2 separate regions of the Homo sapiens genome follow, and region 2 is linked to region 1. A link means that fine-mapping ties the variant in region 1 to the plasma level of a protein whose gene starts in the linked region. Region 1 holds a variant in brackets. A gene starts in the other region. All regions are shown on their forward strands.

Region 1 (2,921 bases):
AGAATTTGCGACTATTATTTTTTATTTTCTTAAAATATTTCTAAGTATTCCAGTACTTTAATCAGGTTTTTTGTTTTGGGTTTTAACCTAAGAGAAACTGGATGAGTGGCTTTTATATTTTCTGAACAAACTTCATCATATCACTTCCAGATTTCATTATATGTTTACGTGTCAGTTTTTTCCCACTGGATTGCCATCTAATTTTTCATGATAAGGATTTTGTTATATTCACTTCTACATCTCCAGCACCTAGCGCACTACATGGTGCATAAGAGAAGTTTACTAAATCTTATGTGAACAAATGATTGCTGTTTAGCAGTCTGATAGGCATTTTTTTTAAAATTCCCTGGGTGGGGCTAGCAGAAACCTTAGATAAGCTAATTTGTGCATAAAAGAAAGCCAGAAATCCCATTAAAAAATTACCCAAGATGAGCTTTTAGAAAACCAGTTTTCTTCTGGATTGAAATTATAAGGGCTACTTCCATAAATGTGAGGCTATAAGCCCACCTTTGTCATGGGAATAGGGAAGTTTCCTTCAAGATACACAAACTGTAACTCTGATTATTCAGCCAAAATGTATTTCAGAGAGATCAGCACCTATCACACTCCCACAGGGAACAGTCTCAGGGTTAGCATAGACTCTGTTTTGTTTTATTTTTAACCCCGGGAGTCAGTTTCCATATTGAAACTTTTATAGCTTTTAATTTTCCAATAATAAAAACCACAGGTTAATGTTGAAGTGTGGAAACTTAGAACTGTTAAATGAACACAGTAAAAACTCTCTGTAATGCCACTGCCAAAATATAACTATGGAGGAAGAGTTAATTTGGTATGACTGATGACATCTCATAGTTAATAATTCACCCAGATATCATGGTGGAGTTTTCTCTTAGATACAGTATTTCCAAGAAAAGATGTCCTAAATGGTCTATTCAGGGCACTGCCATAATACTCTTCATTTGCCAGCCAACCTGGCTCACATACAATAGGCATTTATTCTGAGATGGGGTCTTTGCCTCATTTCGGGTATGGGTTGATAATTCTTAATAGCTCTCAGATTCTTTGCATTTCAGTGGAATATTGTTCAAGGTGTTAGACTTTATGATTTTTTAAAAAAGAGAAAGGACCTATAATAGAATAATGGCACCAGATGCCCAGCATTCCTTCAAAGACTGTGACATTCATTGGATGCTTTATATATTAAAAGAAAAAAACCCATAGCTTGAGTAGGGATCAAGTCAAATCATTTGATAAAAGTGAATGATGCTCATTGGCACAACTTAAAGAAACTATTTCTGGAATAACATTACCTACCTGGGGAGCGAGTTTAATTCCTTGGGGTTTTAATGTGACAGGATTCATTGGGGTGAGCTCCATCCCAGGTAAAATGTCATAGAGTTTGTCTTCTCTTTTGTCTCCTTTGACCTGGTATCCTCGACCCAGGCCTGTGTATGCCAAATAGCCACGGC[C/T]GCCCAGTCCTCTCACTCCCGCAGCCCCTACAGGTACATTCATGTAAATTTCTAGGAACGTAAGAAGGCATTAAACTGAATCAAACCACCAGAAAATCACCCTGAATCTTACTGTAATGGAAAAGTTAGCCCAATTCACGTTGATTATTGCCCTGAAGATGGGTGGGAGACTCTAGGATTCTAATGTAATGAAACTCAACATAAGGTAAGGTTTAACATAGGTGTCTCTCTTTTTTGAAAAACTACCTTCAGAAGAAAACAATGCCATTGATAAATACAATACTATTGATAAGTACACAAACAACTTAAAAATTTTGGGATAGAAAATTTGCAATTTTTGTCTTTAGGTAACCTTGATATTTTATACAGACTAATAAAGACTGGGAATGTATTTATTAGAACATTCCAACATAATGCGACCACTTATTTTGAAATCAGTCTTGCATAGAGACTGTCACTGATCAGTATATCAGAAATAAATTCTGGCTTCCCTAATTATCCCACTTCCAATGACTTATTGTAAAACAAACATTTAGAAAGCATGCTTTTAGGTTCACCATGCTCTCTGATGTTCGGTCAATGTGAGGCTTAAATTTCCATTGAGTTTCATGCATAGATTCCTTTTGATTTTTGTTTTGCCATGTTACTACTTTGATTTTATATTGGTGGCATAGAGATAAAAAATTAAATTGATTACCCTTCATCCATGAATATCATTCATTGATTCCTTTCTTGTTATAAGATAGGCATTTTTTCCCTTATAGTGGAGTTTGTTTTTTTTCGACATCATAACTGGTTGACAATTTGTATTTAATGTATGGATTGGTTAATGAGGTGATTTTATATTCTAAATGCATAATGTTGCAATGATATAATTTATTATCACATAGACAAGTTACCTTAAAGGAAATCTTGATTATTTCATTTGCATTACAATTTTGGGGCAAGTAATTATGAGTATGAAACTTTTAAGGCTGTTGAAGACTAGAGCTCCTAATATGATCAATTTAGTTATACTGAAAAGTAGTAAAACATAGTAAGATAATTGTTTCCACAGTAATCTAGATGTGCCTTTTTGCTTCTAAGTCAAACCCAAGAATAGACTTAAATGCACAGTTTATCGAATTGCCCAGATTCATGTCGTATTTGGAGGATAGAACTGGGATTCAGTTGGCATTAGCCACATCCTAGAAAAACTCATCTGAAGGAGCCAAAAAGACAGGGACAAGCTAGTTTCTTGGAAATAGAATAAAGGCTTTCTTTATCTTCTAGCTTTCTTGAAGAAATGGAGCTTGGAAAACTGCTCAAACATTTAGAATTCTTACAGGATTCAAATGTGAAATATTTATTGTTTTATTAGCAGTCTGATTGAGGGTTTTTTTTCTATTTGTTGTTCAGTTCTCCATGTATTAAAGAAATATAGTAATGTCCTTAATTATTTGGCTTCTAAGA
Region 2 (2,921 bases), not on the chromosome of region 1:
TCCTGGGTTCAAGCGATTCTCCTGCCTCGGCCTCCCAAGTAGCTGGGATTACAGGCATGTGCCACGACACCGGCTAATTTTTCTATTTTTAGTAGAGACTGGGTTTCACCATGTTGGTCAGGCTGGTCTTGAACTCCTGATCTCAGGTGATCCGCCCGCCTCAGCCTCCCAAAGTGCTGGGATTACAGGCGTGAGCCACTGTGCCCAGCAGAAAAGGACAAATACCTTCTTAACCTTATTCCGAAGTTTTGATTTCACAGACGCATGAAAAGGTCCTCGAGAGTCACTGAATTAGATAATCAAGAACCCTTCCAATACTATGGTTTTCGAGCAGGATTTATCAATGTTGGCACCATTGACATTTTCAGGGAGATGATTCTTTGTTGTCAGGGGCTGCCCTGTGCTTAGTTAGGATGTTTAGCAGCATCCTTGGCCTCTACCCACTAGATGCTAAAAGCAATCCCCCAGTTGTTACAACCAAAAATGTCTCCAGATGTTGCCAAATGTCCCCTGGTTGAGAATCACTATTCCAGGGTGTTGATTTCATTCTACTGAAATGTGAATTACAAAATGTATACCTCTCACTGCTTTCTCAGACCCCTAATATGTCTATTTCTTCCCCACTCCCATCTGGGTCTGTTCTTTATGTTATTTTATTAAGTCACAAATAGCAAGAGCAGGTGGGTAGCAACAAGCACAGCATGAATCAAAGTCAGGAAGAGACACTTTAGTCAAAGTTCACTTTTAGGCATTAAAGTTGTTAGCGACCCACTGCCTATTAGGGCACAACACAATCAGCGAACATTCACCCAGCCATTTATTTATTGATTTATTTATTTTTATTTTTTGAGACAGAGTTTCACTCTTGTCGCCCAGGCTGGAGTGCAATGGCGCAATCTTGGCTCACTGCAACCTCCGCCTTCTGGGTTCAAGCGATTCTCCTGCCTCAGCCGCCCAAGCAGCTGGGATTACAGGCATGTGCCACGACGCCCGGCTAATTTTTGTATTTTTAGTAGAGACGGGGTTTCACCATGTTGGCCAGGCTGGTCTTGAATTCCTGACCTCAGGTGATACACCCACCTCGGCCTCCCAAAGTGCTGGGATTACAGGCATGAGCCACCACGCCCGGCCCCATCCAGCCATTCTTAGGCCCTGGTAACAACCCAATCCTTAGCAAGTTTGTCTACCTGCTCCCTGCACCCCCAAAATATGAGGTAATAGGCTAGCTGTGTGATGGGGAAGAAAGAAAAGAAGAAACTCTGAAGGCAAAGAGGTAGTCTACCAAACTCAAATACTCCACCCCCAAAACCTCACATCTGGGAGGCCCTCCTAACTGAAACGTCTGGGGATTTTTTTGTCAGCGTCTGGCTGGGAGGAAGTAGCAAAACTGGGAGAAAATCGACATCCTCAATACCTCCAAGTCAGATGTGCACTCCCCATCAAAGTTCCCCCTGAACCCCTTAGTCTCCAGAGGTTGGGTCCAAGTTTTCTTTCCTGGAAATTGCCCCAGCTACCTTAGGTTCCTTCGCCCTTAAAACTATGACTACCAAACTCAAACCCAGCATCACTCCTAATCTCTTGAATCATCCTTTCTTCACAGTCTCAAATTCCAACCTTCAAAATGCCCAACCCTGTCACTGCCCCTGCCCCTCAGGCTCTACTGTCCTATCTGTCCCATCTGTCCCCCACCCACACACTTCTCCCAAGCTACTCCAGGCAGGCATGGTCTTCTCTCTTAATTTCCTATCTCACCCCATAGTTTTTCCACCATCTTCAAAACTCTTCCCTGATCTCAGCAAACCAAGACTCTCCTAATTGTCTCTGGCGCCCAAAATCTGCATGTACCACCCTCCTACGCTCACTCCTCAGTGTTTTCCCCAAGTTACTCTTTCCACGCTGACCCTCTCCACGCTTCACTCCTCCCAGCCTACTCCCTCGGCGTCCACCCCCCGTTACCGGCCCCTTCTTACTCTCCTGGGCCCTTCTTCCCCGCCATCCGTCGGTCAGGCCTTCTCTAGGTCACCGCTTGCCTCCCCGGGCCAACCGCCGCCGCCCAGTGTTAGCTGCTGAGCCTCTCAACCCCCTCCCCCTCGGACCAGTCTTTCAGGTTGTAGCTTTGAACTGGTGCCCCGGGCCCAGGCGGACAGACTAATCGGGAGGGCCCGACAACTCACCCAGGACTAGGCAGACCAGAACGAGCCCTGAGCCCGGAACCGGGAAGAGGCGGAAGCACACCATGACCCCGCAGAGCAGGCGGCGACGGCGGCGACGGCGGCGGTACAACAACAGCTGCAACACCAGGGAAAAGGCTCGCTGGACCTGGGTCAAGAGCACTGATGACCACCGACCACAGCCTTGCAAAAGCCAGGAATCGGCGCTTCAGTGCGAGTCATAAGACTAGGGGCGGGGCTCTTTCTTGCTTACAGCCAATCTCCGCGCTTGAAAGCGGCGAGAGGGGTGGTGATGTAGCGGCCGGTGGGCGGGGCGACCACGCCCTGGCTTTTTGGTTCACAGCCCTTCCTATGCTCCTGAGAGATATGCGCGGACGGCATTTTCTTTTTCTTTTTCTTTCTTTTTTTTTTTTTTTTTTAATTTTACTTTAAGTTCTGGGATACATGTGCAGAATGTGCAGCTTTGTTACATAGGTATACATGTGCCATGGTGGTTTACTGCACCTATCAACCCGTCATCTAGGTTTTAAGCCCCACATGCATTAGGTATTTCTCCTAATGCTCTCCCTCCCCTTGGCCCCCACCCCTTGACAGGCCCCCGTGTGTGTTGTTCCCCTCCCTGTGTCCATGTGTTCTCATTGTTCAACTCCCACTTATGAGTGAGAACATGCAGTGTTTTGTTTTCTGTTCCTGTGTTAGTTTGCTAAGGATGATGGCTTCCAGCTTCATCCATGTCCCTGCAAAGGACAT

Alleles and levels. Alleles are on the strand shown, and positions count from the first base shown. The strength of an association depends on the size of the effect and on how common the allele is.
In carriers of allele C in region 1, the plasma level of the protein whose gene starts at base 2,365 in region 2 tends to be lower than with T alone (weak association).

The links. PIP is the chance, under the fine-mapping model, that this variant and not a neighbour inherited with it causes the effect. Protein levels are from antibody-based Olink assays in UK Biobank. Linkage for the fine-mapping came from a reference panel and not from the study's own genotypes, which makes the PIPs less certain.
Region 2: LAMP2 starts here. The variant in region 1 is fine-mapped to the plasma level of the LAMP2 protein (UK Biobank, PIP 0.94).

The regions. Positions count from the first base shown.
Region 1 is chr10:50,812,543-50,815,463 of GRCh38, forward strand. A1CF (APOBEC1 complementation factor) reads right to left here. Exons shown (of 13, transcript NM_014576.4): 10 at 1,315-1,496. Among named protein-coding and RNA genes, the nearest start is that of A1CF, 72 kb to the right of the region's middle. The variant C/T (reference allele first, on the strand shown) is at 1,470.
Region 2 is chrX:120,466,932-120,469,852 of GRCh38, forward strand. LAMP2 (lysosomal associated membrane protein 2) reads right to left here and starts at 2,365. Exons shown (of 9, transcript NM_002294.3): 1 at 2,175-2,365. The coding sequence starts at 2,238. RefSeq lists a silencer at 2,303-2,567.